5 separate regions of the Homo sapiens genome follow, and regions 1, 2, 3 and 5 are each linked to region 4. Evidence: fine-mapped expression QTL. A gene starts in region 4. Each other region holds a variant in brackets. All regions are shown on one strand. Distances are from middle to middle. Region 1 overlaps CPNE5 (copine 5). Region 2 overlaps CPNE5 (copine 5). Region 3 overlaps CPNE5 (copine 5). Region 4 holds the start of CPNE5 (copine 5). Region 5 overlaps CPNE5 (copine 5).

What was found. PIP is the estimated chance that this variant, and not a neighbour inherited with it, causes the effect.
Region 1: its variant is fine-mapped to the expression of CPNE5 in tibial nerve (GTEx, PIP above 0.99). The same link has a PIP of 0.9 or more in nasal epithelium, skin and sun-exposed skin.
Region 2: its variant is fine-mapped to the expression of CPNE5 in whole blood (TOPMed, PIP above 0.99). The same link has a PIP of 0.9 or more in blood mononuclear cells.
Region 3: its variant is fine-mapped to the expression of CPNE5 in whole blood (TOPMed, PIP above 0.99).
Region 5: its variant is fine-mapped to the expression of CPNE5 in whole blood (TOPMed, PIP above 0.99).

Annotation. Positions count from the first base shown.
Region 1 is chr6:36,813,394-36,819,528 of GRCh38, reverse strand. All of the region lies in intron 3 of CPNE5 (copine 5), which reads left to right. Among named protein-coding and RNA genes, the nearest start is that of CPNE5, 23 kb to the left of the region's middle. The variant T/G (reference allele first, on the strand shown) is at 2,978.
Region 2 is chr6:36,744,453-36,750,587 of GRCh38, reverse strand. It overlaps CPNE5 (copine 5), which reads left to right. Exons shown (of 21, transcript NM_020939.2): 15 at 2,321-2,367; 16 at 4,011-4,192; 17 at 5,073-5,200; 18 at 5,438-5,540. Among named protein-coding and RNA genes, the nearest start is that of RAB44, 50 kb to the right of the region's middle. RefSeq lists a silencer at 5,455-5,655. The variant G/A (reference allele first, on the strand shown) is at 3,707.
Region 3 is chr6:36,753,401-36,759,535 of GRCh38, reverse strand. It overlaps CPNE5 (copine 5), which reads left to right. Exons shown (of 21, transcript NM_020939.2): 13 at 3,238-3,291. Among named protein-coding and RNA genes, the nearest start is that of RAB44, 59 kb to the right of the region's middle. RefSeq lists enhancers at 1-264, 100-289, 2,975-4,174. The variant C/A (reference allele first, on the strand shown) is at 3,871.
Region 4 is chr6:36,835,974-36,842,108 of GRCh38, reverse strand. CPNE5 (copine 5) reads left to right here and starts at 2,665. Exons shown (of 21, transcript NM_020939.2): 1 at 2,665-2,826. The coding sequence starts at 2,732. RefSeq lists an enhancer at 757-1,307 and a silencer at 1,992-2,201.
Region 5 is chr6:36,737,650-36,743,784 of GRCh38, reverse strand. It overlaps CPNE5 (copine 5), which reads left to right. Exons shown (of 21, transcript NM_020939.2): 20 at 23-96; 21 at 1,299-3,010. The coding sequence ends at 1,517. It also overlaps the pseudogene GPR166P. Among named protein-coding and RNA genes, the nearest start is that of RAB44, 43 kb to the right of the region's middle. The variant C/A (reference allele first, on the strand shown) is at 2,047.

The sequences.
Region 1 (6,135 bases), 23 kb after region 4:
TCTCCCTCTGCCCCCAGTCCCCAGACTTGGTGGGACCAAGAGGTTGAAGGGGGTGAATTTTATTCATGAAACATGTGGGAAGTTCATCTGTAAAACAAATAAAAAAAAGAAAGAAAGGAAACATGTGGGGGCCAGACGCCGTGGCTCATGCCTGTAATCCCAGCACTGTGGGAGGCAGAGGCAGGCAGATCACTTGAGGTCACGAGTTCGAGACTAGCCTGGACAACATGGAGAAACCCCATCTCTACTAAAAACACAAAAATTAGCTGGGTGTGGCCCATGCCTGTAGTTCCAGCTACTTGGGAGGCTGAGGCAGGAGAATCGCTTGAACCCAGGAGGTGGAGGTTGCAGTGAGCTGAGATCGTGCCACTGCACTCCAGCCTGGTTGACAGAGCGAGACCCTGTCTCAGAAAAAACAAAAACAAAAACAAAAAAAATGTGAGAAATATTTCCACAGGGGCTGGGCTAAAGTTTACTATTCCACCCTGTCCAAGAGTCTATGCCAATTAAAGCATAAACCAGATTGCTAGGGAAACATTTAGCCTGCTTAAGTGAACTAATGACTTTTGAGGCCTTTTGGCTGTGCTTCATAAAAACCAGGAATGTGTTCATGTCCTCGTGATTCATGAAGGAAAGTGTGGAAGGGCTCTTCAGAAGGGCACTCTTTGGTGAGCCATTAATTACATTCTGTAATTGAGAGTTGTCTTCATTTGGTTGAGGGTTTCTGATTGTCCAAGTCACATCTTGTTACTACACCCGCCGCAGGGTGGAGTAGAGGGAAGACAGGTGGCCTTGGTGTGGAATACACCTGTGCTTGCTCCTGGCTCCAGCCCTTTCTGGAGGTGGGGCCTAGAGCAAGTTACTTAACCTCTCTGCACCTCAGTTTCCACATCTGGCGTCTGAGGGTAAATCCTACCTTATAGGCCTGCGGTGAGGGTGAAACGAGATGACGGAAGTAAAGTGCCTTGGTGCATGGTCAGTGCTTAGTAAATATTCATTATACAGCATCATCCAAAGTGTTTGGGGCCTTCCTGGTCACTCTTCCCATCTCAGTTAATATTTGCAACAGGAAGCATTTATGAAGTGCCAGGCGCTGGGGAAAATAGGGAGATGGGTCAAAAGAACAGAGCATCACCAAATGTGTGAATTGGAACTAGAGTTGCAGCCTGGGAGGGGAGATGCATGTGGATGAACAATCCTAACGGGAAACGACGAGAAGGGAAGTATGGATGGAAGAAAATGGGAGTTCAGGGGAGGGAAAGTCGCAGCCAGAAGGCCACATTCAACTAAGGCATTTTGACAGGTCATTTGGATTTTTTTAAATGGAATTTGAGCCCAAGCACAAGCCATTTGCCTGGGGTGCATGATGTGGAACAGAGGAGATATGGGTTGGAAGGAACTTTCAGGATCATCTGGCTCAACCTCCTCATCCTACAGACGGGGGCAGGACTGGCCTCAGTCTGTGGAGGAGCTGAGTTGAGCTGGGTTTCAGGTTTCAGTGACGTGCGAAGACATAACCCAGGGGCCCAGTAGCATCCTGCACTGTTGAGGGATGTAATAAAGGGGTGGATGGGGTTCAAGGAAATCAATGAAAGATGGTGAGTCTCAAGGGTAGCAATAGGAGGGAGCCATTACTACTCCAGGCCTTGGGAGGAAGGGGAGTCCTGGTTTCTAGAACCCCAAGGGACTTCCAAACAGGACCAGGAGCCCCACTGGAGGGACAGAGTCAACTCAGGCAACCTCAGTCTCTTCCCGTCCTCCTATCTCCTGCTGGTGCCTCCCATTGGTGGAACCTCAGTAGGAGACCTAGGGCCAACAGACCATTGGGGCAGTCAACTTGGGTCAGTCTTTCTTCCTGGGCACAGAGCAGTGTGGGGAAAGGCTGGGTGTAGAAGCAGAGGGGCCAACGGGGGCTGTCCAGCACAGACAGAGGAGCATGGCTGGTGTTCAGGATGTGAGGCTGGCAAGATACAGGAAGAGTCAATACAGGGAGTTCATGGATGTCAGGCTGAGGACAGCTGGAGTTGTAGAGTGAGAATGTCAGAGCAGAAGGGTCCGTAGAGATCAAGGAGGCTGACCTCATTTATGAGAGGTGAGCAGGACCCGTGCCCAGACTCCAGGAGTGAAGATGGCAGAGCTCAGCCACGTGGGCCACCCCTAGGGCACATGCTGTTTCACAGAGCTTTATTTATTCATTTATTTTTGCGTAGAGTTTCACCCTTTTTGCCCGGGCTGGAGTGCAATGGCATGATCTCAGCTCACTACAACCTCTGCCTCCCAGGTTCAAATGATATTCCTGTCTCAGCCTCCCGAGTAGCTGGGATTACAGGCATGCACCACCACGCCCAGCTAATTTTGTATTTTTAGTAGAGACAGGGTTTCACCATGTTGGCCAGGCTGGTCTTGAACTCCTGACTTCAGATGATCCATCCGCCTCAGCCTCCCAAAGTGCTGGGATTATAGGCGTGAGCCACTGCACCCGGCCTTCACACAGCTTTTTCTGGAGAAAGGAAGATGCATCTAAACATACTGGGGATAGCTTAGCCGACTTGGCAAGACCCGTCCCTACTGAAAATCTAAAAATTAGACAGGCATGGTGACCCACACCTGTGGTCCCAGATACTTGGGAGGCTGAGGCAGGAGAATCGCTTGAACCCAGGAGACAGAGGTTGCAGTGATCCTAGATTGTGCCACTGCTCTCCAGCCTGGGCAACAGAATGAGACCCTGTCTCGAAAGCAAACAAACAAACATACTGGGGACGGGAGAGGGGCTGTAATTCCTTGCTCGATTCTCTGTGCGACCCACAGAGGAAAGTATCAGGAATGGAGAATTAAAGAAAAATCCAGATTGTCTCTATGGAACCGCCTCTGGGATAGAAGACTGCCCTTGCAAGTAAACAGGAACCAGTTCCCACCACTCCTCCATCTAGTTCATTGCCCTTCAGGAACAAATCACCTCTCTGTTACCAGAATCTTG[T/G]CCGAGAAATAATAATCCTGTGGTCAGGGGAAGTCAAGTGCAGGCACAGCACTTTCTCTGTACGTGGGGTTTGCATGAGGCTGCAGATGAGCCAATCCTGGGAGGGATGAAATCTGCTCTCGTGGCCCCTGGCTGCCGGCTTTCAGCTGGTTTTAACCATTTGGGTCATTTTTATGCCTTCTGAGAAAGCTCCATCTTCCCAGCACCTAAATCTGTCACCACATTTCATGAAAATTGACTCAAGATGTAATTTTAGCCCAGAAAATCAAGCACTGTTTGCATCAAGTCCTGCCAGGGCCTTCTGCATGTCCAGTCAAATGCATTTGTCAGATGAGGCCTGAACTTGATGTCCAAAACCCTGGGTTTTCAGACCAGCTCTGATATTTACTGACTGTGTGACCTAGGTGAGTTATTTATCTTCTCAAGTCTCAGCTTACTAATCTATAAAATGGGGCTAAGAGACCTTCGTGGGTAGACTAACTAAGGCAGGATGGCCAGGTGGGAAGAGTCCCAGAAATGCTTCCACTGGGAAGAGGGACATGATAGGGAACCCCTCTAGGTTTCCCATTTGAAAAGTGGGTATGGAGATCCCTGCCCCTCCCTCACCAGGCAGCTGTCTTGGCTGAGGGCCTCTTGGAAAAGAAATGGGAATCACAGAATCTTAGGGTGTCCAGCAGATCGCCCCATACCACTGCAGTCATTGGCCCCAGCCACCACACCCACATGTCCCTGCCAAAGCACTCAGTCTCTTTTTTGAGGAGAATTAGCCTGTTAAACTTTTCACCAGCAGCTGAAATTGATGGTTCATCTCTAAATATTCTGAATGATCTTCCTCGGGGCAACTTGACATGTGTCTTCACATAACCTCTGTGAGCATGTGTTGGGCACTGTCTTAGTCTGTTCAGGTTGCTATAACAAAAATACCATAAACTGGGTAGCTTATAACCAACAGAAATTTATTTACACAGTTCTGGAGGCCAGGAAGTCCAATATCAAGGCACCAGCAAATTCAATGTCTGGTGAGGGCCAGTTCCATCTTGCTGTGTCCTCACATGGTGGGAGGGATGAACACACTCTAAGCCCATTCATGAGGGCTCTGCCCTCCTGACCTAATCACCTCCCCAAAGCCTCACCTCTGAATAGCATCACAATGAAATAAGAATTTCAACGTGAATTTCAGAGGGACACAAACATTCAGACTACAGCAGGCACCTACTATGTGCTGGGGGATGAATGCTGGGGGTGCAAAGGGGGACCAGACACTGCCTACAACCAGAGGAGCTCACTTTCAACCCAGGGAGATGACACCAATCACAGTAATGATAATGGCAAACACATGACAGCAATGTGCAGACACTGTTCTGTTCTTTTTTTTTGTTCTTTTTTTTTTTTTTGAGACAGAGTCTTGCTATGTCGCCCAGGCTGGAGTACAATGGCACGATCACTGCTCACTGCAAACTCCACCTCCCGGGTTCAAGTGATTCTCCTGCCTCAGCCTCCTGAGTAGCTGGGATTACAGGCGTGCACCACCACGCCCGACTAATTTTCTATTTTTAGTAGAGATGGGGTTGGTTTCAGGCTGGTCTTGAACTCCTGACCTCCAGTGATCCACCTGCCTTGGCCTCCCAAAGTGCTGGGAATACAGGCGTGAGCCACCGCACCTGGCCATAGACACTGTTCTAAGTACTTTACCTGCATTAACTCAATGAATCCTCACAACAATCCTATGAAGGAGGTATTATTATTATTATTGGCCCCATTTGACAGAGGAGGAAACTGAAGCTTTTCATATCACTGTTTTCTGTCCCTTTACCAACCTGAGCACCCTCCTGGACAGCATGTGTCCCCGCCATCCCCTTCTGCAGCCCAGAGCATCATGGGCTGGCTTCCTCCACACAGGGGCTTGCCTTAGATCATCACGCTCCTCCCTGCTGGCCTCTGCATTCTGTGTCTGCTTCTGAGGATTACACATCTAGCGACACTATCTAATATGCCACTGATCTTTTGGCAGGTGTTTTTGACTTAATTCGTACTGAGTTTGGGGACTTCTGTGTCTTTCTCCATGAGTTGCTGTCCAAATAGCTTTGCCAATTTCCCTACCTCAGAGTTGGCAATGAGTTTTTGAACCTAAATCTGTGATTTCACATTTATTGCCATCATGTGTCGTTTGTTGGATTCAGTCCGTTGTTACAGTTTATGGAGACCATGTTGAATTACGATCTTGCATTCAGCATCTTGGTTATGCCTCTTGGTCCTGGGTCAGCTGTAGTCCTCACCGACACAGGTGACAAGGAATTGAATGGGATGGAGTACTGCGTTCCTCCACTAGAGATCTTTTCCCAGATTGACTTCAGTTTTTTAATTGACCTTTGGGGTAGGCCGTTCAGCCACCTATGTGCTATATTTTCCCATCTGGTCCCTAAAGACATCATGAATAACAGTCAAATGCATTTGTCAGATGAGGCCTGAACTTGATGTCCAAAACTCTGGGTTTTCATACCAGCTCTGATATTTACTAACTGTATGACCTAGGTGAGTTATTTATCTTCTCAAGTCTCAGCTTACTAATCGATAAAAAGGGGCTAAGAGACCTTTGTGGGTAGACTAACTAAGGTAATGCTTATGAAAATGCCTGGAAATATTAACCGCAATCTACCATTGACCTGGGCACTCCATCACAGTGGGAGAGGCCGCCCTTGGAGATCCTGTGAACCAAGCCAAACTTGGTGGCACTGGAGCTGAGTCTTGAGTGGTGCCATGCATCATTCTGGGGGGCAGGGTGTTGCAGGTGGAGGGAACAGCAAGTGCAAAGGCCCTGAGGTGGGAACAAGCTTACTGTATTTCAAGGACAAAAAGAAGGCTGGTGTAGTTTGAGTGGTGTGAACAATTAAGAAAGTGGACAATACGGTCACAGAGGTCATCAGGTTCAGATCCTGTAGGGCTTCAGAGGCCATATAAAGAGTTCTGATACTGATCTAAGTGTGATGCTAAGCTACTTGAGGGTTTTATTTTGTTTTGTTTGAGATGGAGTCTTGCTCCATTGCCCAGGCTGGAGTGCAATGGCTCGATCTCAGCTCACTGAAACCTCTGCCTCCCGGGTTCAAGTGATTCTCCTGCCTCACCCTCCCAAGTAGCTGGGACTACAGGCATGCGCCACC
Region 2 (6,135 bases), 92 kb after region 4:
ATAAAGGTCTGTTTTTCATCTGTGGGATGGCAGGGTTGGGTGGGGAGATGATCCACGCAGTCATTCAGGGACCCAGGTTCTTGCTAGCTTTGCGGCTCCTTCTATCCTACTGCCTGGAATCCTCTGGATGCTCTGCCCCCAGCCAGCAGAAGAGGAGAAAGAGGTGGGGATGACTGTCTGTGGCCAGCAGACCCTGGCTGGGGTCTCCTGCTAACCATGTCCTTGACATTTCCCTGGGGGTGAGTGAGGGTTCCATGAGCAGCAGCTCAGCTGTGATCAGGTGGTTTCTGATAGGGACCTTCTGCTGTGTCTGTGACAGGGATCTTGGGCTGATAGAGCTGTGGTTTCTGATAGGCACCTTCTGCTAAATGCAAGTGAGGTGAGGCCTACCTGATCTTACATCATCCATAGCCCCAACTAAGAATTACTAGAACAGAGTTTTCCCCAGCGTTATCCCAGCCTCGTGTCCTCATAATCCCTGGATGAAGGCAGTGGACATTTTTTCAAGAGGTAGATTCTGGGAGCCACTCCAGACAAACTCAATTGGCATTTCTGGGGTGGAGCCCTGGAATCTTCTTAAGCAAGCACCCGTAGTGATTCTATGCTCACTGCCGTGTGAGAACCATAAGACTAGACTTTATCAGGGACTTGTGTTTGTCAGCTTTGTTCTGTCTGGACCCGGCAGAGAACCTAGAATGGCCAAGCCCTCAGAAAGTCTCAAGCCTGAATCTGAATCCTCAAAACCTAACTTTTTATTATAGAAAACGTCAAACACATGCAAATGTGGAGAAAAGGTATAATCAACATGCAAGTACCCTTCACCCAGCTTCAGCCATTACCACATCATAGCCAGTCTTGTTTCATGCACTCCACCCTTCATTCAGTCATTTATTATTATTTTTTATTTTAGTGGGTTTTTTTTTTTTATTTTTGAGGTCTCACTATGTTGCTCAGGCTGGCCTTGAACTCCTAGTGTCAATCAATCCTCCCACCTCAGGCTCCCAATATCCAATTTGAAGCAAATCCCAGCCATCATATTTTATCCCCAAATGCTTTAGGATGTCTTTCTAAAACATAAGGACTCTCTCTTTATCAAACATAACCACAATACCATAACCACACCTAAAAAATTAACAATTCCTTAATACTAAATATCTAGTAAATGTTTACATCTCCCCAATTATCTTATAGTTTTAAAATTGGTTTGTTTGAGTCAGAAATCCAGGCAAGAGCCATAGGCTGTGATTGGTGGGTTGGTCTCTTAATTCTCTTTTCATCTATTCATTCCCCCCAAGCACCTGAATGGCTTGCTAACACAGATTCCTGTACCCCACCAAGAGAATCTAATATTCAGCCAGATGTGGTGGCTCACACCTGTAATCCCAGCACTTTGGGAGGCTGAGGCAGGAGGATTACTTTTGCCCAGGAGTTCAAGACCAGGTTGGCCAATATAATGAGACCCCATCTCTGCAAAAAGAAAAAAAAAAGCCAGGTGTGGTGGTGCGTGCCTGTGGTCCCAGCTATTTAGGAGGCTGAGGTGGGAAAACTGCTTGAGCCCAGGAGGTTGAGGCTGAAGTGAGCTGTGATCACGCCACTGCATTTCAGCCTGGGTGACAGAGCGAGACCTCTTTTCCAAAAAAAGATTCAGGAGAGCTAGATAGAGTCTGAGAGGCCCAGCATATTCCCAGGAGATGGTGCTGCTGCTGTCTCTGGTAGTGCTTCTACAGAGTTTCCCAAAGACTGGATTTTGCTGGCTGCATCTCCTGTGGTGTCATTTAATGTGTTCCTCTGTCCCTTGTATTTCCTGTAACTAACTAGACAGCTCTGGAGCCTCAATCAGAATCAGGTTCAATTTTTTGGTAAGACAACTTCATGGGTGGTATTCTATTCTTTCTTTAGGAGATGCATAATGTCTATTTGACTCTCTTTTTTGTCAAATGAGTTTTCGTCCTGAATCTCACTCCAAATTTGAGTCAGCAATCCAATGAGACCCAACCTCACCCAGCCTACACAGGTGGGCCCAGGGGGTAGGGTTTGTGGAGGAAATAAGTGACCATAGCCACATGCCCACACAGAACACAATCATCTTCAAAGAGCTTTCCTACTGCATAACTCTTCTGATGCTCATTAATCCTGTAAGGGGGGCATAGCTGGCATTACTATCTCAGCTCTCCAGAACTAGAAAGAGATGAATGACTTCACCAAGGCCACACACCTGGCAAGCAGCAGAGCCAGGGTGGTAGCCAATGTCTAGCACTGTCCCCCCTCCCACAGCCCTGCCTCCCTCCAGGTGACTCCCCTGCTGTTCTCCCTCTTCTAGGACCCAGATCAACTTCACTGTGGCCATTGATTTCACTGCCTCCAATGGTGAGTTGGGGGATGGGTAGAGGAGCAGGGTGGGAGGAGAGAGCTTTTAAGGGCTGTGGCATCTGGCCCTGGCTGGGACCATGACCCTCATACTCTCTGGCCTCTTCCTCACCAAAGAGGATGTACCTAGGTCTGGAGGACCAAAGATACAACCAAGATGGCAGTAGTATCCCCAGGTTGGACCATTGACATAAATCTGGGCTCTGAGCCACAGCCTTGTCCTTGAGGAACACCCAGTCTCCCTGGGGGAATGGGATTGTGTGTACTCTGGGCCTATGGAGGGCCCTGGAGATGTTTCCCCCCGGGATCAAATCCCAGCTCCTCTGTGCAGTCCAACCCACAGGCTGGAGTGGAGAATCAGAGCCAAGGCTGAGCTCTGTGGTGTTCAGGGAGGCAGGATCCAGCCCAGGGACCCCAGTCCTTACCTGGCTGGGGCTGCCCTGGCTTCCTTACCTCCTCCCAATTTCTCCAGTGTCAGCCTGTGGCTGAGTCACTAGGAGCAATAACAGTGCCCAACTTTACATGATTAGAAACATCACAACCTCCCTTGGGCTCTGGGCTCTATTAGGGGTGCTCAGTGCTAATTTTTGCACCAATCAAAAATGCCCAGGTCTTGCCCTCTACAGGTGTCAGGAGCTCCTCTTATAGCTGTAAGTCCTAGCATCATAGAGCACTGGGCTATCAGAGCTGGAAGGGGCCTTAGTAATAATAACACTGAGGATAGTTATCATAATATCGATAGCATCTGTGTAATATTCACATCAATCCTATGAAGTAGGAACTATTATTGCTCTGATTTTACAGGTGAAGAGACTAAGGCTAAGGTTAAGGAACTTACCCAAGATCACATAACTAGCAGGAGGTAGACAGGATTGGTACCTTGGCAATCTGTGCTGTACTACCTCCCATCAATGAACAAATAAGTTAAATACAGACTATATTGGCAGCGAAGAGGGCTCTGGGGGGGGAAATCAAGCCAGGAAGAAGGATAGGAAGGATTGGGGGAGGCTGTAATTTTTAATAGGCTGCTTGGAAAAGATCACACTGAGGAGGTGACACTTGAGCAGAGACCTGAAGAGGCCAGGGAGCGGGCCAGGGAGTGGACATCTGGGGAAGAGTGTCCCAGGTAGAGGGAACAGCCATCACCAAGGTCCTGAGGTGGGAATGGCGAGGGGCTGGTGAGGCTGGGACTGGCGAGTGACAGGGAGGAGGGTAGGAGATGACCTGGAGGCCAGATCATGAGTGCTTGCGGGCTCTTGTGAGGACTTTGGGTTTCATTTTGGGGGAGGTGGAGGCATTGAGCGTTTTGGGCAGAGGAGAGGCATGATCTCTCTGAGGC[G/A]GATAGGCTCAGTCACTGCTGTGCTGGATATGGGCTGGAGGCACAGGGGCAGAAGGAAGTGGGAGATCAGTTAGGAGACTGCTGCATCCTATAAGCAAGAGGGTGGTGGTATGGGGAGGAGGAGAGGCGGAGGAGGGATTCTAGATCTGTTTTGCTGAAGGATTTAACATGGGGTATGAGAGAAAGAGAGGAGTCAAGAATTAATAAAAGTTAGGGGTGCCCTTGGACACCCCCTTCTTCATTCTGAACCCGGGGTGACTTGGAGGGTCCAGATGGTCAAAGGCTCCCATGTCCTGTGTTACAGGGAACCCCTCACAGTCCACATCCCTGCACTACATGAGCCCCTACCAGCTGAACGCCTACGCGCTGGCGCTGACTGCCGTCGGAGAGATCATCCAGCACTACGACAGTGACAAGATGTTCCCTGCCCTGGGCTTCGGGGCCAAGCTGCCCCCGGATGGCAGAGTGTCCCACGAGTTCCCACTGGTAGGTGGTCCCGCTGGTGGGAGAGAGGACTGATCAGGCTGGGGGTGAGGTGACAAGCTGGGGGTGGGGGGACGTTTCCCTTCCTCTGAGCCCGGGGACTTAAGGCTCAGCCTCAGTGGAGGTAGACTGCCTGCTGTGTGTAGGGGGGCTCCAGAAATCCACTCCCTTCCCTGATCACAGATGCTGCCCCTCCATGTCTGAAGCTGCCTGCCCACAGCTGGCCCTGGCTTCCTTGTTCCTGACAAGACGCAGGTGCAGGTGGAGGCGAGCTGTGGCTGACCCATCCCTCAGGGCCCCAGAAAAGTGAACAAGGTGGTGTGGGTTGGGTATCCCTGAGTCAGTGCTGAGATGGGATGACGTGGATCTCCAGGGTGATGTGGAGCATGGCGTCATCTGGGCATCCCGGGCCCTGTGGAGATGATTGCACAGGCCACCCCTTTCCCTGGCTCCCACGAGCTGGGGACACTCAGGCACAGCAGACGTCCCTCCCATGCCTGAGGGTGCAAGGTGCTGTGCTGGGCCCAGTGTGCACGTGGACAGATCAGCCACAGGTCCTTCCTGAGTTGCTGAGACCCAGCAGTCATTTTAGGGCAGAGTGGATTTACCCAAGGTTCCCTGAGGGAAGCAGCCAGGGATCTTGGGGCATCTCTGAACAGGTACAGGGAGCCGGGTAAGGAGCAGGTTTGGACCCAGCTCACCTGAAGCATGCACTGCTTCAGGATGGGCCCTGGGAGCTCCCTCCCCTGCCCCGCCACCCCACACCAGAGAAGACCTGGGGGAGCCCAGGCCTGCTGGCCTCCCCACCTGGACTCAGTTCCCACACATCGTGCACCCCTGTCCTTCCTTCCTGGGCTCAGCCTCCCTGCCCTCTGTCCCCCAGAATGGCAACCAGGAGAACCCCTCATGCTGTGGCATCGACGGCATCCTGGAGGCCTACCACCGCAGCCTGCGCACTGTGCAGCTGTACGGCCCCACCAACTTTGCCCCCGTGGTCACCCACGTGGCCAGGTGAGTGCCGCTGCCACCGCCTCCAGGCACTCACAAGGCCTCTGTTTCCACACCAGCTCTGCCTCTGGGTGGTGGGAGGGGGTTTCTCTTCCCACGCACTTGCCTTTCAGGGAGCCCTGACCCTGAAGAGATTCCCCCAAGAGCTGTCACCCTCCAAAGTGTTCAGGGTCCTTGTTTAGGGGGGAACATGCCCAGAGGTCCCGCAGACAGACCTGAGCCCACACCTGCCCCACCCAGGAATGCAGCGGCCGTGCAGGATGGCTCCCAGTACTCGGTGCTGCTCATCATTACTGATGGGGTCATCTCGGACATGGCGCAGACCAAGGAGGCCATTGTCAACGTAAGCAAGGAGTGTGCGGTGGGGGAGGCGGTTTGAGGAGTGTCTTCCTCCCCGTTAGGGGAACCCTGGGGATGTGCCTACCTCCTTGACCTTAGGGAAATGCTTGGAGATGACTTGGGCGTGGCTTCTCATTTCCCTGCCTCACTGGGCCCCACTGCCCTCATCCACCTTCTGGCCTCTGGCTGCAGAGTCCGGTGCTGGATAGTGGATTCTAGCGGGTGGAAGGGGTGCCCAGATCATGAGAGATCTGGCTGGTGAGCTCTGTTCCCACCTCTTAGTCACGCTCTGGTCTACTCCCTCCAGACCCCAATGACTCCCTCATTAACCCATCTCTAGGACCGCTTCCCCCTTTCCCAGGCCAGCCTGGCCAGGTCAAAGGAGTGGGAGGGGAGGCTCAGAGTTGGGGAAGCTCAGGAACATGGCTCCCCAAGCCGGTGGTCTCCCTGTAAGAGGGGATGGGGGTGACTCACCAAAGCAGACCTATGACCCATTCCCCCTGCCACCCTCCCTCTCTCCTCCAGGCGCAGCCTGGTTTCCTTTGCTCTTTATCTCTGAGTGCCCTCCCTCTCCCTACCCCCTTTTCTGTGTTTCTCTG
Region 3 (6,135 bases), 83 kb after region 4:
GTGTTGCACTTACTGCTGCATCCCCAGAGCCAGCACAGCTCCTGGCCCCTAGGAGCCCCTCAGTGCCCCCACCCACCCCACCTAATGTGCGCAGGAGGGCAGATTCCAGACCTGTCCTGTCCCCGCCTGACCACCAAGAAGAAGGGAGGTGACTTAGTGGAGGGGCAGCTCCTCGGCTGGCCCCTAGGTGGCGCTGGCCCCCTGCATGGGATTCACCGTGGCGGGGCTGGAGAGGCTGAGGCTGGGAGCATGAAACCTCAGGGTAAACAGGGATCTGAGAACAGAACATTGCTTTAACATTAAAGCAGTTATATCAGAGAGTGGAAATGTGGAATACAGGCTAATTTAAAGATAACATAGAAAGCTTAGAAGAAACATGCTTGTGGCCAAATCTTTGGTTACTCTCAGGACTCCGGGTTCATTCTCCCCAGCTGGGAGGGCTATGTTGGAGCAAAAGTTTGAGATGCTGTCCATTCCGATAGTTCAACACCCTCAAGGGAGAGATTGGGAAACTGAGGCACAGTGCAGCACTGGGGCTGCCATTTTGCCCTCATCTTAACAGCTTGCCTACTTAAGCTGTTTTCCCATGAATGTGTCCGTGAGCACCTCACCATCTGGGTAACCCCGTGGAGGGGGCGTCCTCCAGTGCTAAAGAGGGTGCTCTGGTCTTCTCTCCCGGGCTCTCTCACCATCTCGCCCAGGCCCTCAGTTTCTACCTGCACAGCTTGCCAGACCTCCCACGTGAACTTCCCACCTGTGCCCCAAATCCAGCGCCTTCCTTCTGTGTCTACCTGGTCACCCCAACCCCTCCCTCTCTCGAACCTCTATAGCCACGCCCAGGGCCCAAGAGGCGTGGTCACTTCTTGACAGCGCTGTTCTCACCATAGCTCAGCACCTGTCCCAATACCCCCAAGTCCTCATGACCTCTCGCATGGACTTATGGTGGCAGTAATAATAGTAGTAGTAATTTTGAAAAATAGCAACTAAGGCTGGGTGCAGTGGCTCACGCCTGTAATCCCAACACTCTGGGAGACTGAGGCAGGAGGATTGCTTGAGCCCAAGAGTTTGAGACCAGCCAGAGTAACATAGCGAGATCCTATCTCTACCAAAAAAAAAAAAATAGCCAGACATGGTGGCAGCTACCTGGAAGGATTGCTTGAGCCCGGGAGGTTGAGGCCACAGTGAGCTATGACCCCACCACTGCACTCCAGCCTGGGCCATAGAGCAAGACCCCGTCTTAGAAAAAAGCAACAGACACGTATAGATAATACTTACTACATTCCAAACTGTTCTAGGCACTTTGCTTGCATTGGCCCATTTAATCCTCATACCTTTCCGGGAGGCAGGTACTTCTTATTCCCATTTTAGAGATGAGGAGACTGAGGCACATTGAGGTTAAGTAACCTGCCTAAGGTCACACAGCTATTATTAGGTGGCAGAACTAGGCAAATATTTCCTGGATGAGCCTCCTCCTCCCCTCACACTCACCTCCACCAGGCCCCAGTGTCCTAGAGCCTGCTCTGATTTTGTCTCCTACCAGCTTGGGGGTCATCAGAGTTCCCTGCAGGCCGCTGGGTGACATTCAGACATTTTTCACTGGGCATTCTAGGCTCTCCTCCAACCAGCCCAGCTTACTCTTCCACCCTGTGGTTCTGCCATCAAACTGGGCCTGGGTTCTATTCATTTCTCCCACAGAACCTCCTCTGACATCCATCTCTCCGTGCCCAGAGCCTTCCTGTGCCTCTAAGTCTGCCTTCAAGACTTCCTGCTCCAGAGAGGCTTTGCTGACACTCTCACCTAGAGTGGTCTTTCCTTCCTCTAACTCCCCTGACACTTCTGTGATCCCCCTTGTTCCATGGCCCTTGTCACTTTTTGCCCTGAGGACATATCTTCTCTCTCCAACATAGGTGATAGATGATTCCAGGGGAGAAGCAATATATGTCTCCACCCACCCCATAAATGTATGTCAAAGAGATCTGTTTGTATCTGTTATCAAGGTGGCACCAATGTATGCACCACTGGCCCGGGGGCAGGAAACCTGGTTTCTAATCCTGTCACTACCCAGATGGCTGTGTGACTTTAGGCAAATCACCTGGTGTCGCTGTGCTTTAGTTTCCTTCTTGCTGGAAGTAGATAGCAATACTCACCCAGACAGAAGAGACCACGGTAAAGATCAGCTGACGGCCTCTGTGGGAACAAAGACAGGGAAAGGGGAAATGAGTTCACCAGAAACCAACAGGCAGCACAGGAGGTATGAAAATTGCCTGGCTTTGTTTGATGGGACATTAGGGAAAAGTTGTGCCTAGACTTCCCTTATTAAAAACAAAACAAAGAAAAACTGGCGAGGGTCAAATGAGAATACAAATACAGTAAGTGCGGAAGTCTCGTGGGGGGCCTCAGGGCTGGGTGGCTCTCGTCACTTTGCCCAGTCTTGGCCTTGGCACTACTGGGATTTGGGACTGCATCACTCCCTGCCGTGGGAGGCTGTCTTGTGTACTGTAGGATGTTTAGCAGCATGCCTGGCCTCTACTCACCCCCTCAGTTGTGGAAACCAAAACCGTCTCCAGATGTTACCAAACGTTCCTGGGGGTAAAATCGCCCCTGGTTGAGACCGCTGAGTTAGCCACCAACAAGCCTTCTCTGAGCACCTACTCTGAGCCTAGCCCCATGATTTATCTGACACAGGTCTGGTTTGGAAGTTAAAGCTTACACTCAAAGAATAGCTAAAGAGGTTCTTGCTGCCAAGTAAGAGGGATGGTGATGGAGAGGGGAGCCTCAGAGGCCCTGGGCAGCCCTTGGGCTGGGTCCCAAAGGAGGAACAGGGGAGATTGGAATTGGCTGAGAGAGGAAGGGGGTGCATTTTTGGTGAGGGGAGCAGCCTCAACCAACACAAGGGACAGGTACAGATAGGGCCGCTTTGCAACATCAAGACTTCTTTGGCTATACTGGGTGGAGGGTGCGTGTGTTCCGGGGAACAGTGGGAGAGAAGGTTAAATAAATATTCCCGGTTGATCGTGGGACCCTGGGTCTGATGGGAGAACCCAGTTGTGTAACCCAGACTCAATACCAGTCTCCCACAAATCCTCCTTAAACCCTTCTCCCCTGGCCCCGTGGTCTTCACACCCCACACTCTAATGGGGCTGGGCTTGGACCACACCCATGGGTGGTTGGAAGCCCTCAAGACTCACCCTGACTGCCTGGAAGCATGCCTTACCTGGTAACTGGTTTTTCCTGCAGGTGGTAAACCCGAAAAAGAAAATGAAGAAAAAGAAATACGTGAATTCTGGCACAGTGAGTAGCCACCCCGGTCTCTGCAGCCGGGTGTAGACATTCTGAGCCCCAAGCTAGGTCTGGTATCAGGGAGGCCCGTGCGTCTGTGTGTGTGCAGGGGCTGAGCGTGGGAATCAGACATCCAAGAGAGATGGGGTGGGGAGGGGTGGGGCAGATGGAGCAACAGCCAGGGGAGAGAGTTGACTTGCAGACCACACAACAGGCGCTGGCTGTATCTAGCATGAGGAATCGCAGAGACATCCACGGGACTTCCTGCAGGAAGGAAGAGGAAGAGAAGTCGTATTTATTGGGCCCCTACCCTGGGAAATTCCCCACGTTGGTGCTTTTCACAGGTTGTTGCCCTGAGAGGCAGATATTATCATCCCCTAGTCATGAAAGAGGAAACCAAGGCTGCAAGCAGGAAAGTGACTCAGCCAAGGTCACACAGCTAGAAAGTGGTAGAGATGGGACTCAACATGACATCTCACTCCAGAGCTGGCAGCTGCTACGGGCGCTGCCCCTGCTTAACCGTGACCTTCCTGGGATGACACGCCGGCCTAGTGGCTTCTCGGGGCTGGTCTTGAGGACATTCATACGCTT[C/A]TTCAGCAAATACTTACTGAGTGCTACTGTGTGCCAGGCACTATTCTAGGCACATCAGATACAGCTGGAAACAAGACAGACCCAAATCCCTGGTGCTTATATTCTAGTGGGAGGAGACAGAGAAAAAAAAAAAACACACACACACACACACACATGCCTGTGTGTGTCAGTTGATTATGAGAGCTATGGAAAAAGTATAAAGGGTAAAGGGACAGGCAATGGAGGAAGTATTGAGGATACTGGGGAAAGGGAATTCCAGCATTCCTGCTGTAGAGAACAGCACATGCAAAGGCCCTGAGGTGGAGCTCACAGTGCATTTCTAGAACAAGCCACTTTCTCTGCAGTGCAAACACACCCAGATTCATCCTCTCTGTGTTCCTTCCTCACTCTAGAGGCCCATGGCTAGTGCAGCCAAGCCTGGTCATTTGAGTCAGGCAGACTGTATCTCCAGACCTAGAAGAGGTTTTCAGGAGCTCTGGGGTTCCTCTGAGAAGCCTCATTTTCTCCGTCTGTAAAGTAGGACTAATAAATCATCCCCACCTTGCCACTGCACAGGGCAGCTGTGACAGACACATGGGAGATGCAGGCTTGTGAACTGTAAAATTACTCTGCTCATTCAAAGGGGACTGAACACCACTTCTTTGATTGTAACTGCTTCACAGACTGGGGCTTGGAGTCATATTTCCTTTGTCCAAGGCTGCGGTGTTTCTTAGTGGAGAGGCTGTCAGCATTTGGGCAGGAAAATTCTTCATCTCACAGGATGTTTAGCACCCCTGGCTGCTGCCCATAGCTACCAGTAGAGCCCCAGTCATTATGAGAACCCCCAAAATTCTCCCACGCCTTCCTAAATTCCCCTAGGGAAGACAGCACCTTCCCCAGCTGGGAATAAAAAGGTTCAAAAACCACTGATCTCATCCAGCCTTCTTACTTTAGAGACGAAGAAACTGTGGCCTAGAGAGGGCATGCGATTTGTCCCAGGTCACACAGTGAGCTGGAGACAGAGCGGGCCTAGGCCCAGGTCTCTTGACTTTCCTTTTACTCCAGCATTTCCCCATCTTCATCGCGAAAAATCACCCGGGATGCAGAAAGCTTGCTGAAATACAGACGCCCAGGCCAGTTCCCTGGGATTCCACTTTAGGAGGCCCAGGAATCTGTGTTTAGTGCTTTTCATCCCTTACTTATGGTGTGCAGAATCCCCTGGGGATCTTGTGAAAATGCCAAGAATCTGCATTTCTGCATTTCTACCTGGCATCGAGGTGATGCTGACGCTCTGGTCTAGGGACACTACCCTTTGAATAGGGGAAAGTCTGCTTTCACCCTGCGAGCCCCTGGGTGAACCCATATGGTCAGGGCAGTTAGGGCATTGCTTCATCCTGGGGGTTGGAATGGGGAGTGGTCAACTGTGTCTGCAGATTAGACTTACGTGAAGAGCTAAAAAAAAAAAAAAAAAAGAAGATCTCTGAAACATTCATGTAGCCCCGGAAACTCGGCTATAATGGGTCTGGGCTGCAGGATGATCTAAGAGCCCCCAGGGCATCTCATGGTCATCAGTCAGGGTTGAAGCCACTGCCGTGGTTCCTAGTAAGTCTGAGCTGCCACACTTGGAAGGAGGCCTGTGGTTCATCCAGGTGCCTAATACCTTAACCACAATAGCTGGGGGTCTTACTGCCAAGTAAGGGTGGTGCTCTCACCTGGCCCTCCCAATGAGCCTGTAAAAACAGCTGAATCTTCATGAATAGGGGGCTCCCAAACTACCAGAGAGGAGTTCGTTCTCTTACACAGGTGAAAGGTCCTCTGCCCTAATCTTGTCTCATATAATTGGCCTAGGATGCCAGGCTTTCATTTGTCTCCTTGATTCTAAATTGTTATGATAATGAGCTGCCAGGTAGCTGCCTGTCTTGGCAAAGCCAAAGCTAACTTTGCCAGGGCATAGGTTAAAAGGCCTCTGCTTGGGGGAGGGGGCCTGGGGTAGTCAGTTACCTCTGGGGAAAAGGATGGGCTACTTATGAGGCAGGATCTTGGGTCTGAGAGGGATGAGATGGGACCAGTAAGATTTAAGATAAGCACAGTCCAAAGAGGCACATTTCAGGACTAATAGCTCTAGGCACATGGAAGCCTGAAGCTGGTCGGCATTGGCAGGTTGTTAGGCCTGTGCCAGGAGGGCCCCCTTGTCCTCCACACCCCACCCTAGGTCCCTGGGGCTGAAGAGCCAGTGCCCACTTAGAGGAAACTAACACCCTTGGCTTGGACCCCGGTTCCACTGAC
Region 4 (6,135 bases):
AAAAGGGAATGGAGTGACACAGACAAGTGTCTACAAGAGACCCTGGGGCTGCTACTCCAAATGCTGTCACTTTGCAAGGTTACTGGGTAGAACTTCAATCTTACTACTCACCTGCTCAACAACCTGCAATGGCTCCCTATTGTTGCCTTTCCCAACAAGGCCTCATTTCATGGATGATTTTCCATCGTCTGGCCCTATCCTAAAAGAGAGTGGAGCCTCTTGCTCAGAGTCAGGCTTTGGTCTCAACTGCCTTGTTTCACATTCTCACTATGCCAGTCCCCAGCTGGGTGATGATGAGTAAGTTACTTAGCCTCTCTGGGCACTGGCTTCCTTACTTATTAAATGTAGATAATATTAGGTTGGTGCAAAGTAACTGCAGCTTTTCCCATTAAAAGTAATAATATCTCACTTATAAAATTATTTTGAGAATTTAAAATCATGCACGGTCCCTGTGAATATGCTACAAACCGCTGATTTATACAACTTAAAATGGTAATTTTATGGTATGTGACTAATATTTCAAAAAAAAAAAGTAAGCATGGTGTCTGGCCCAGATCTTTGAAAATAAAACGATGCTAATTATTGTTATGAACAAGGTTTCCCAAGGCCCTGTCACTGGGCCAGGCACACAGCAGATGCTCAGTAAACACTCCTGGAATGAATGGAGAACATATTCCACAAGCATGCTTTGAGCATTGTTTATGCCAGGTATGTGGGGGATGGGGAACATAGAGATTCCGAGTTCAGTTTTGCATCCTCAGGAAGGGAAGACAGAATTATTCTCCTTGGAGTGGGGCCTCCTGACCCAGCTGTGCCTGGCTGTCAGGGGAATTAACAGCCTCTGTCCCTTGCTGCCTGTTCCAGGAGGCAGAACCCAGTCCAGCTGATTCTGAGCCATGGGGAAATTGTAACAGGCAGAGGAATGTGTTCTTGTATTTATCTTTGACTGACAGTATCTGATGTTCCAGGAATTGACTTCAAACAGAATCCGGAGGAGCCCCTTATGGTCCCGCTGCCACAAACAAGGCCCAGAGAGCGCAACTCTGCCCAGCCCAGCACCAGGTTTTTGGCCTCCCCGCCGGCCCGAGGCACATCGGCTTCGATGTGCCAGGCGGTGGGCGAGGAAGTGGAGGTTCCAGCTCGGCAAAGCTTAGGCTGAGGCTGAGGATGGGCTAGAGTCAAGTCTACGTGTGCAGCCTTACTCAGGGAGACGCCTCTGCGCTGCAACCTCATGCCCGGGAGGGCAAGGCTGGGCTAGGGCGGGGGATCGCGAGGGGCTTGGCTGGGAAGAGGACTGCAGGAGAGGTGTCCCAACTCTCCCCTCGCTCGCCAGGCACACAGCACGCGCCTACTCGGTGCTGGCTGCATAGAAGCCCAGGGAGCTCGGGCCGATCTCCCAGTCTGGTTGCCACCAGACTGGGTGGCAGGAGCTTCTAGACCTGGAGGCTGGCTCAGTCGTGTGGTCACGACGGGCGGGGGAGTGGAAGGGCGCTGGCGCGTGGTTTCGGCAGCCGACTTGGCGAGGCCGCGGCTGGCGGGAACCACGGATGGGGGAGGCGCCCATGCACCGACCCCACCTGGGCCACTGGGAAACCGAGGTAGTCCCTCCTGGCACTGGGGTCGCCCCCACACACCTCCCCAGAAGGAGATGTAGGGTCTGTTTCTGAACTGAGACCCGCCCCCGAGTAGGGCGCACACTCAGCAGAGACCCTCCACACCCAAGCCCCTGGGAGGGGATCTTTTTTGCACACCTCCCTCCCACTTATGCCCCCTCTCAACCCTGCATAGACCTTTCTCAAAAAGGCGCCCGTTGGTTCCCATAACCCTCCCCCTCCCCCAGGATGGAGACCCCTGATGGGAGATAGGGGTGGTGAGAGGGGGCGGGCGCAAATGAAGATGCGCGCGACCAGGACCACCTCTTGCTGTCACCCGCCACGTCCCCAGCATCTGGACCGCGTCCCCCGGCCCGCCACGCGCGCACACACACACACACGCGCACACACACACGCTCACACTCACCCTGCGCGCAGACCCCGCCCGCGGCCCCGCCCCGGCCCCTGCGGGCGCCCCCTCTGGCGTTCCCGGGCGGCGGGAGGCTGCGGCTTCGGGCAGATTTGATTTTCCCGCAGCCCGGGCGCCCCGGAGCCGAAGCCCGAGCCGAGGAGGTGGCGCTCGCAGCCGCGTCTCAGCCCCGTCGCCGCCGGCGCCAAGACCCAGGGAGAGGCGGCGCAGCCCGGGCGCTCGGGCTCCGCGCTGCCGGCGCCCCGCCACCCCCGCCGCCAGCGCCCCATCCGGCGCCTCCCGCTCCTCACGCCCCTCTCCCTGTCTTCTGCATCCCCTCTACCTCTGCCCACAGACGCGCGTCCCTCTCCTGGTGCCCCTCTCCACGACTCCGCGTTTCCCTCCCGGTGCCCTCTCCCCGAGCCCCTCTCCCCGCGCCCCTCTCTGCCTTCCCCGCTGTGCCCCCGCTCCCTGGGCTCCTTGCCCTTCCCCACTGGGCCCCTAGCCTCCTCGCGGCGTCACCCGAGCCCCCTCCTCGATCCGCGGCCCCCGCTCCCTCCGCCCTCTTCCCTCTCTCACTTCCCACGCCCCCTCTTCGCGCTCCTCTCTCCTCCCCTTGCCGCCCAGCCCAGGCTCTGGAGTTGGGGGAGAGCCCAGGGCTCCAGTCGCTCCGGAGGAGGCGTGAATCGCGCAGGGATTGACTAATTTGGGGTGGGGGGTGCGGTGGGCGATGGAGCAGCCTGAGGACATGGCGTCGCTGAGCGAGTTCGACTCCTTGGCGGGCAGCATCCCGGCCACCAAGGTGGAGATCACCGTGTCCTGCAGGTGAGCCTCCCGCTGGCCGGGTCCCCTTGCCCCGGCCCTGGACGCAGAGCCCCGCGGCCCCTGCCGCTTCGATCCTAAACCTCCGCGCGCCCCCTTCCCAGAGTGTCCTGGTCTCCAGGACTGCGCCCCTGCCGATCTGCCAAGAGCCCCTGTCCTGTCCAGCTGCGGGTGGCGACGGCAGAATAGGAAGCCAGGCTGGGGTCATATCCCAGAAAGTTTGCGCTCCAGGCTGTTGCATCGAGGAGATATGAAGACACAGGAACAGGGGGTCCAGGCACCCAAGTGGGGAGAGGGAGTTGGTAAAAGGCTGTACTACGGTCTCTGCTCAGGCTATCTCTGATCACCCCATCCCCAAATCACGAAGTGAGTGATTTGCCCCCATCCCTCCCAGGCTCGTCCACCCTCTCCCTTCTGTGCCCTCCTCTCTTCTCTCTTTGCCCCTTCTTTGCCCCAGCATCCTGATCCTCCCCTCACCAGTCTCCCCCACCCCACTGTCCTAGACTCTAGGATTTTAAAGCCTTCCTTCATCTCTATCAACAACGAAATCGACTCCTGGAAAAGGATCAGATTGACTCATTCATACTAAGGTGTGGATACATGATAACAACTTAAAGTGGCACCATTAAAAAAATAACTTGGGTCAAAAATCTTAAGCCAAAGGAATAGAACACTGATTGTGAAACTGTAGAGTCCAACAGAGGAGGAGGGGGAATATTTTTGTGGGCTACCACGCCCAAATCTTCACTCATGTCACACAGGGTTTGGGGGTAACTTCTCTGTCTAAGAGCTGGGTCGACCCCAGGTTCTCCTAGCTAGGGGAAGGCTGCCCCTGGCAGTAAGAGGGTATGGGTGGCAAAGGGGGATTTTTCCCTAGTTCAGTCTCTCTGTGGCTGGCCTAGGATCATGTGCTGCCACGCAAGCATCACCCACTTTGAGGTTCCCCCACAGAGGCCATGCCCCCTGCCCCAGATCACCGACAGCATTTCTGGAGCCCTGGCTGTGCCCTTGTTCGAAATCACCCATCTCATCCTCTTCCAGGTTGCTCCTTGGTCAGACCCTCCATGAGAGGTAACCTTGTTGCCCCCCAGTCCTGTATTACAAAGTTGTGGCATTGATGAGGTGTAGGTAGAGCTGGAGAGTCTGGGCAGGGGCGTGAAGGAGGGAAGGACTCAGTGTGACTTTCTCTTGAAGACTTGGGGATAAGTGGCAGTGAAGGCTAGTCTGGTTGAACGTAGCTTCCCCCCTAAGCCAGGCCCTCTGGGGGCTCCTGTGATAGCTCCCAGGTCCCATACACCATGCCGTCAGGATCATCTCCCAACGCCATTTGCATCTTGTCATTACTCTGCTGGGAGATTCCTGATGGCCCATTAGCTCCAGTCTCACCTCCTCAGCCATCAAAAGCAGCACGGCCTCCCCACCCTTCTCCTGCACGCACATCCCTGCGCCTGGCACTCCCTCCCAGCCTTCAATCATGCCTGTCATCTTCAGTTGTCTTGGGATCCTTCCCACCTCCAAGCCTCTGAACAGCCCATTCCCCATCCAGATTTCACTCTTCCTTTATCTCCCCAAGTTCATGATCCCCCCACTCCTGAAAAGCCTGGCCTCACGCTCCCCACTTTCAGGCATCCTCTCACCCATGAGACACACAGCTCAAATCATTGTCTTCTGTGTCCCGTGGGCCCTAGGTACTCAGCCTGGGCCACAGGGTCACTCACATACTGAGGATGAAACCTCTTGAGACGTCTCAGGTGTGCAGACGTCATCCCTCCCCTCTCAAAGCAACTGTGTAAGCATTTGAGGGCAGGGATTCCCACCCTGAGTCAGACCCATGCACCCTCTACTCCAGTGGAGAGGAAAGGAGATGGAGGGCAGATAGTGTGGCTTTGGAGTCAGATACCTTGAAACAGAATCTCTGCTTCACCACTTGGGGCAAATTTTAAGCCTCAGTTTCCCCCACCTGTCAGGTACAAACAATAAGCAGCATGTACTCATGGAGAAACCTTGTTCACCAAGGTAGCTCATGTGCTTAGAGCAGTGCCTGGCACTTGCCAAATACTGTTGGAGGAATTAACTTGCAGGAGTGGAGGAGCATGAAGCACCTAGCAAGCTACTTTGCACTTGCTTGGCACACAGTAGGTGCTCAATAAGTAGCTACAATGATCACCGGAAGGCGGTAGCACCTGGCCCCTCCTGTTTGCTTTCTGGAAGTAAAGATGTCCAAAGGACTCAAACCTCTTGCATAAGAGGCCTTCCTGGGGGATGTGGTTCTGGGGCTGACCCTGGGTCAATACCCTTTTGGGGGACATGATCCATGAGCTGAGGAAGGCCCTGACCTGGGGCCTGCTCATGTTCTCCAGAAAGCCAGAGGTGGGGGGAAGTGGGTTTTGGTGGGGAGAGATGAGGAGGGAGCAGTCACTTAGAACAGAGGGGAGGTGAGAAAACAGTCTGGGTGGCCTGGAAATTGTAGATGCATCTCTCTGCCTCAGCCAGGCCCAACTATTCAGGTTCTAGAACAGAGAGAAAGAGGAGGAGGAAAAGGAGGAGGAGAGGAGCACAGGGAGGAGGGAGAAATGCAGACAGTGGCTTTCTCCAGCATATTCTTCACTCCATGGTCGCCAGTTAAAGTCAAGTCCCTCCCCACTGCACCCGCTCTCAGGGCTCCAGGAGAGGAGGCTCTGGGGAGGCTCTGCCCTGGGCATCTGAGTGACACCTGCTGGTGGGCCCAGAACAGTAGGGCAGGCAGAGGGGCTGGCAGGTGAGAACTCCAGGGGGTTTCAGGATGGGCAGCTGGGGTAGAGGGGCCAATGTTTCAGGGAAGATTATGAGTTGCCACCTCTGGCTCCCAGGAACACTTGTTTCCACTTGCCTTCCTCCTCATGAAGGGGCCTACCACTCCCCTACCACAGAGCCTTCTTCTGCTCTGTGCCTAGGGGAGGATCCTGCACCTGCTGTGCCCATCCTAGGGCTCAGCTAGCTAAGCAAAGCTGCCTGGCACAGGTGCACATCTGAGTCAGAGCACAGGGCCACCACGGGGCCAAGTCTCCACTGAAGGCAAATGACACTGGGGATGGACAGTTTCAGGCCCCTGCTTCAGGTAGAGTATACTATACTCCCAAACAATTATTTTTACTGACTGTGGTAAACTCAGGGCCCAAGATTAGAAAGCCTTTGGTTATTTGGCACAACGGTTATGAATGTGAGCCCTGGAATCTGTCTCCTTGGTTTCAAATCCCAGCTCTCTTCCTATGACCTTGGGTAAGCTACTAAGCTGTCTATGCCTCAGTTTCCCCATCTGTAAAGAAAGCATAA
Region 5 (6,135 bases), 98 kb after region 4:
CATGACACTCCTCCCCTCACAGCCATGGTGGAGCTGGATGGCGACGACGTGCGGATCTCCTCCCGGGGGAAGCTGGCTGAACGCGACATCGTCCAGGTGAAGCCCAGGCCTTGCCTGCCCCATGGGAAATTCAAGAGCCCCTCTAGCCAGGCGGACCTCACACCCCCTTTGGGGGCTTCCCTGGTGAAGGGCCCAGAAGGGAGGCACTGGGAGCCCCAAAGTGGCCCAGCCACCACCGAAGGGAGTAGGAGTCAGTCCTCGGCCATGCTGTGGTCTGGGCTGGGCCCCCCTCTGTCACATCTGGGACACACTCCTAACATTGCGGGTGCCCAGCCAGAGGCCAGAACCCTCTGCCAGCCCTTCCTCAGCCTCCAGGCCTCTGTGGTCAGCCTCGTTCTGGTTTTTTTCTGCCCCTTGAAGGCTGAGGCAGTGTCTTTAGTGTTGCTGCAGCCTTCTCCAAGAATAGGCATTGCTCGGTTAACTGAATCAATGTAAGCATCTCCATGAACGGTGCAAATATAATGAGCAGAAAGACCTTTGTCCTCAGGGAATTCCCATGCAGTCTCACGTGGAAGAATGCACCCTCCGCAAGCACTTCCCCCACTCATCCCCTGCAGAGGAGGCCCTAGTGCTTAGGAGATGCAGAAGACAAAGCTGACATCCTGCATACCCCCTTGGTTTAAAAATTGGGGCCCAGTATCCCAGGTGTGGAGACCAAACATAGGGGGCTGGAAACCAGAGCAAGACAACCTGGGAGGTGGGACCGGCCCATGCTAAGGCCTGGAGGCAGGAGTGAGCCAGAAGAGGCGCTCAGGATGGAGGGCACCCCCGGGAAGAAGCCAGATGGGCCTGGCATTAGGCATTGGCCAGATTAGCCCCAGAGAGAAAAGGAACGAAGAGAGGCCAGAGAGAGAGGGCTCTGCTGGACAGGTCGGGGGAAACCCAGGAGGGCACGTGCCCCAGAAGTCAGGGATTCAGTTGGCATTTCGGAAGCACCTACTCAGAGCCTGTGCTTAGTGCCGAGGTGGAGAAATCGTGTTCAGTGGTGTGTCCTGGTGTGGAATAGGGCTCAGTTTTTGTCGAGTGAATGAAAGAATAGTGACTATGACTATAGTTACTGACTGCCCAAACCCAGGGAGTTGAGGGATACAGTCCCTCAGGTAATTCAGAAAGGTGGGGGGATTGAGTCAAGTGAGCAGAGGCTGGGAGGGGGGTGGGGATGCAACCCCAGGCCTGGAGATTTTGGGGGCCAGGGTCCCACAGGAGGCACTGCCTGACCCTGCCCTCCCACTTGCCAGTTTGTACCCTTCCGGGACTACGTGGACCGCACAGGCAACCACGTGCTGAGCATGGCCCGCCTGGCCCGAGACGTGCTGGCAGAGATCCCTGACCAACTGGTGTCCTACATGAAGGCACAGGGCATTCGCCCGCGTCCCCCACCCGCAGCACCAACCCACTCGCCCTCGCAGTCCCCAGCCCGCACGCCCCCTGCGTCCCCCCTGCACACGCACATCTGAACCTGGTCTCAGCAGGCAGGTGGCTGGGGCCTGGGAGAGGCCAGGTGAATGGGAGGCCAGGGCCCCAGACTCCCCGAAGTTGGCCTGCCCGGCCTTTGGGACATCTGTGTGCCTGGGAGGCTGCCAGGGGGTGGGGCTTCTGAAGACCCCTCCTCAATTTCTTGGCCTCACTTATTGCCCAAACCCAGGGAGTTAGGGGGGTACGGGTGAAAGAGGGGTACACAGGGACCCAGCCCTTCTCTTCTTCCCCAATACCTGGCTCTAACCCAGCCAGGAAGGTGTAAACAATAAGGGTGATTGGGGTCCCTGTCGCCCACCCCCGGCAATCCTATTTGCTTACCTGTCACCCTGAAGCCTGGGCTTGGCCTCCTCCAGCCCCCCATCTCCGTCCCATCCTCCCATGGTGTCTACTCCTGTCCCTGAGCCCCGCCCTGTGGTCTATCCTGTGCCCGATTTCCAGTGAACCCCATGAAGCTGATGGGTTTGCAGGAAGGCCTGAACATGTGCACCCTCCCAGGGACACTGGATG[C/A]GCTGGGAGCCCCGGGGACCCCATGGGGTGCTGTAATCATGGACCGTAGGCCATGTGATGGGCCTGAAGTGGAGGCTGCTCAGCACAGAGCCCTTTCTGGTGCCTCTCGAACTCAGTACGATGCAAGTTCTAGACACACAGATGGCCTGTGGAGGCCTCTCCCTGGTGTGGGCCCACAGGTACTTCCATGGTTGACTCCTGGCTTCAGGAATCCCTTCCTCCCTCCAGAGGCTTCCCAGGGCCCTCGGTGCCCACGCCTCTGCCCATCTGGAGGCCTGAGTAAGGAGTGGCTCAGCCCCACGTTCCCACACTGCTCCTGCTCTTTGCCCTGTATCCCATGAGGCTAGGAGACAGGAGTCCTGGGTTTGAGCCCTGCCTCCCCCCACTGCCTAATGTGGGAACCCAAGCAAGGCCCTTCTACCTTTTGGGCCTCAGTTTCCATGTCTGTACCACAAGAGGGTTGACCAGATGGCCCCAGGTTTTCCTTTAGGTCTGACATCCTGAGGGTCATTCATCCCATGCCCAGTTCCCCCCATCCTACTCCTAACAGATGTGACCCTACTTGAGGCCGCCTTGGCTTTTGGGTCACCCTGTCTCATCCCATCACCCCAAACATACCCTAGTCCTTCAGCCTGGGGCTCTGGCATCTGAGCCCGAGCTCCTGCCCCTGCTGTGGGAAAGGTGGGGAAGAAGGGGATCTCCCTCCCGGGCCCACCCAGCTGCCCAGCCTTTGCCCACTCGGGGAGCAGATCATGCATGCCAATCCCTGTTGCCGCATGGAGCTCCTCAGCCCACTGACCTCTCCGTGCCTGGTGCAGGCCAGGCCCCCGTCTTCCGCCTGCCTCTGCTTCCCCGTCATGCATGGTGGTGGTGTTTCTACGGTGTCTGGTTCTGTGCCCGTCTCTGAGACAGTCTCTGTGTGGAATTTGCCTTAAACTGAAGTAAATTTGGTTCTTTTAGTAAAGCACGAAGTTTTTCTTTCTTCTCTGAAAAATAGCACTGACGTTGCTGCTTGACAGGGTCCAGTTCTCCTCTGTGGCTTCCTTCAATTGTTTGCTTCAGTGAGATTTACAATCAAAGGCCACGTGCCACGCTCTGTGCTAGGCATTGAGGATGCAGCCATGAACAAAGCACAGACCCTGTCCCTGCACAGGGCTTACAACACACACACAGATAATATGGGAGAGACCCAGCAAACACATCAACAAATAGGCTAGTAACATCATTTCAGGTGGTAGCAAGAGTTCTAAAGACACATGAGGGAGAAGGAGGGTGATGTTTTCGATGAGGTGGTCAGAGAGGGCCTCTCAGAGGAGGTCATGGTTGAGGTGAGCCCCCAGGAAGTAAGACAGGGAGCCACGCTGATATCTGGGGAAGGGAGCTCTAAGTAGAGGGACCAGCAGGCGCAAAGGCCCTGTGGTAGGAGCTTCCTTGGTGCATTTGCAGGAGAGCGAGGCCAGTGTGGCTGGAGCTGAGTGCAGGAAGGGAAAGTGCTAGAGATGGGGTCGGAGAGGTGAAGAGGCCAGAATGCACAGGCCGCATAGGCCATGATGAGGCCTTTGGCATTTACTGAGTGAAACGGGAAGCCATTGAGGAGGTGAGAGAAGTGAGTAACATCATCAGAATTTCCTCTAAAATAAACGGATTGCTTTATTGCATTTGATCACTCATTCACTCATCTCTCAACAAGTATTTACCAAACATGAGTGCCAGGCCCCACTCACGTATTGGAGACCATGCTGGAGATGCACACACAGAATTGCACCCTCAGGGGTGCCCCTGCTCTGGGGCAGTGAGCGAGGAAATACTACAACCATGGGGTACTGATGCCAAGCCATCAGGAGGGGCTGGGTAATCTGTGGGCACCAGAGTCACTGTGCCATGAGGAGGAGTCTGGCATCCCCTGTGCAATGGGGTCGTCACCACCACCCCCATCCTTGCAGGGTCATCGTGTGGCCAGAGTGACGAGTACATAAGGTTGCATGTGACATATGTGACATGCGCCCAGGACCCATGGCATTTTAGGTGCCCAAGAAACACTGTTTTCCTCTTGTTCCTCTTCACATATAAATCCCTGTGGCCATCAGGGACCAGGATCATAGCAAAAGGGGATTTCTCCCTTCTCTGGGCAAGTTTGTTCCCAGATTAGCCCTCCAGGCAGCCATTCCCACCCTGAACATCACAAGAAATTTGGAACTAATTATACCAAAGTTTGGGACTTGTTTACTTCTTATGATTTTATAGTAAATGGGTGCTGATTCACGGCTGTCCCTATAATTACATGCCCCTGTGACTTACATTCTGATATGCTTTGAGTGGGAACAGGGTGGGGTCACAGCTTGGAAGGAGGGAAGTTCCCATAACCAGCAGCTCATGTCACCTCACCACAGGGGCCGTGGGAAAGTGTCAGGAGAGGGTGCTTGCCTGGCAGGGGGACTGAGGCACAGAGCCACTGCCGGGGGCGGGACGGGACACCAAGAGCATCTTTGCTGTGCCCAACACCGTAGCATCTTGTGGATTCTTTCCCAAGGTGTGTTCCACAGAATACTGGCTCTCTGGCATGGAGTTTGGGAACCTGCCTGCTGTGCGTCCCTCTCGAGAGTCTCAGTGGCCTTTTGGGTATTCAAGGCTCTGGTAAGTCCTACAGCAAAGGGACCAGTATGATTTGGTTCAACCCAACGTTTCTCAAGCTTTGTATCACAGAGTCAGTGTGTGTATGTGTGTTTTGCTGGTAACACCGTCACCAAGCAGAACGTGCTGTCTTGGGAATTTCAGTAGAGACAATCTCCCGGGTTTCCAGGCCAACATGGAAGCCTGAAGCCTGCCCTGAGCAGGCCAGAGGGAGGGCACTGAGGGTGGGAAAAATGGAAACCTCAAATTGGGCTCTGGAGAGAAGAAAAGGGCTCTGAAAGGGATCCCTGCCCCAGGTGCTTCAGGAAGAGAAGCCACAGGGAAGAAAGGAGGGCTTCAGACATTCACAGTCCCGGAGTCATGGCTGCATGGTTGACTGGATTTTTGTCCCCCTATTGGACTGAGGGGTGTGTGGAACAGAGCTGGAGGGGTGGGCAGAGAGGGGAAAGGCTGTCCTGCCTCTGAGCTCACCCCCCAGGCTGTGGCTGGCCCTCTGCTCCCCCTACTCAATCTCCTGGCCTTCAGGATTAAGGACCCTAGGCTGTTACCCCCCAGATCATTCTCCACCCACTTCTCTGCCTTTGGAAGCCCCTCTGTCCTCCTCTTGTCCACTCACCTCAAATACCCCTGAATTAATACAAATAAAATAATAATAGTAGCAATGACCAGCACGCATATGCACTTACTAAGCATCCTTCTAAGCACTTTACATGTGTTTAGCAAATTCATCTTCATAACAACCCTGTGAAGAAGGTATGTACTGTCATCATCCCATTTTCCAGATGAGAACACTGAGACACAGAGGCTCAAGATCACACAATTAGAGAGCAGTGGAGCCTACAGAGATCTGAGCCTGAAAGTGGAGTGGGAGGATCCATCTGGTTACCTAGAGATGTGAGCTCTAGCTGAGCCATTTAGTTGCTTTGTGACCTTGTTTGGGCCATCTGCCCTCTGGGTCTCAGTCTCTCCACTGGTAAAATAGAGGGGATGGGCTGTCAGGTCCCTAAGGGTCTTCCCATCTCCCTTGAATCTCAGCGCATCCATCAGCCTATACTCTTAGACCCCCGCCAGGCCCCACAGGCCTCCTGAGGCCCTGTCACGGCCAGGCTGGACAGTCGCCACCACTGAGGCTGCCACTCCCACACCTCTGGGATGCCTGGCCATCATCGGCCTGCAGAAGAGGTCCCTGAGTCCTGCCTGGAAGGGGCGGGAGAGGTAGAAGCAGAGGATAGGGCTGACAGCGCAATTGGAGTAGGCCAGGATGGTGCAGAGGCTGGAGGCCACAAAAGCAGCCGGTGTGGCAGGCAGGTAGCCCATGGCTGCCACATAACCCAGCATGGAGCAGGGCCCCCACATCAGCACAAAAACCACCAGCACCACAAGGCTGAGCCCTATGTTCTCTTAATGCTCCTGGATGCTCTCTCCCATGGGACCTTGGGGCTGGGTCCACAGGAGCCA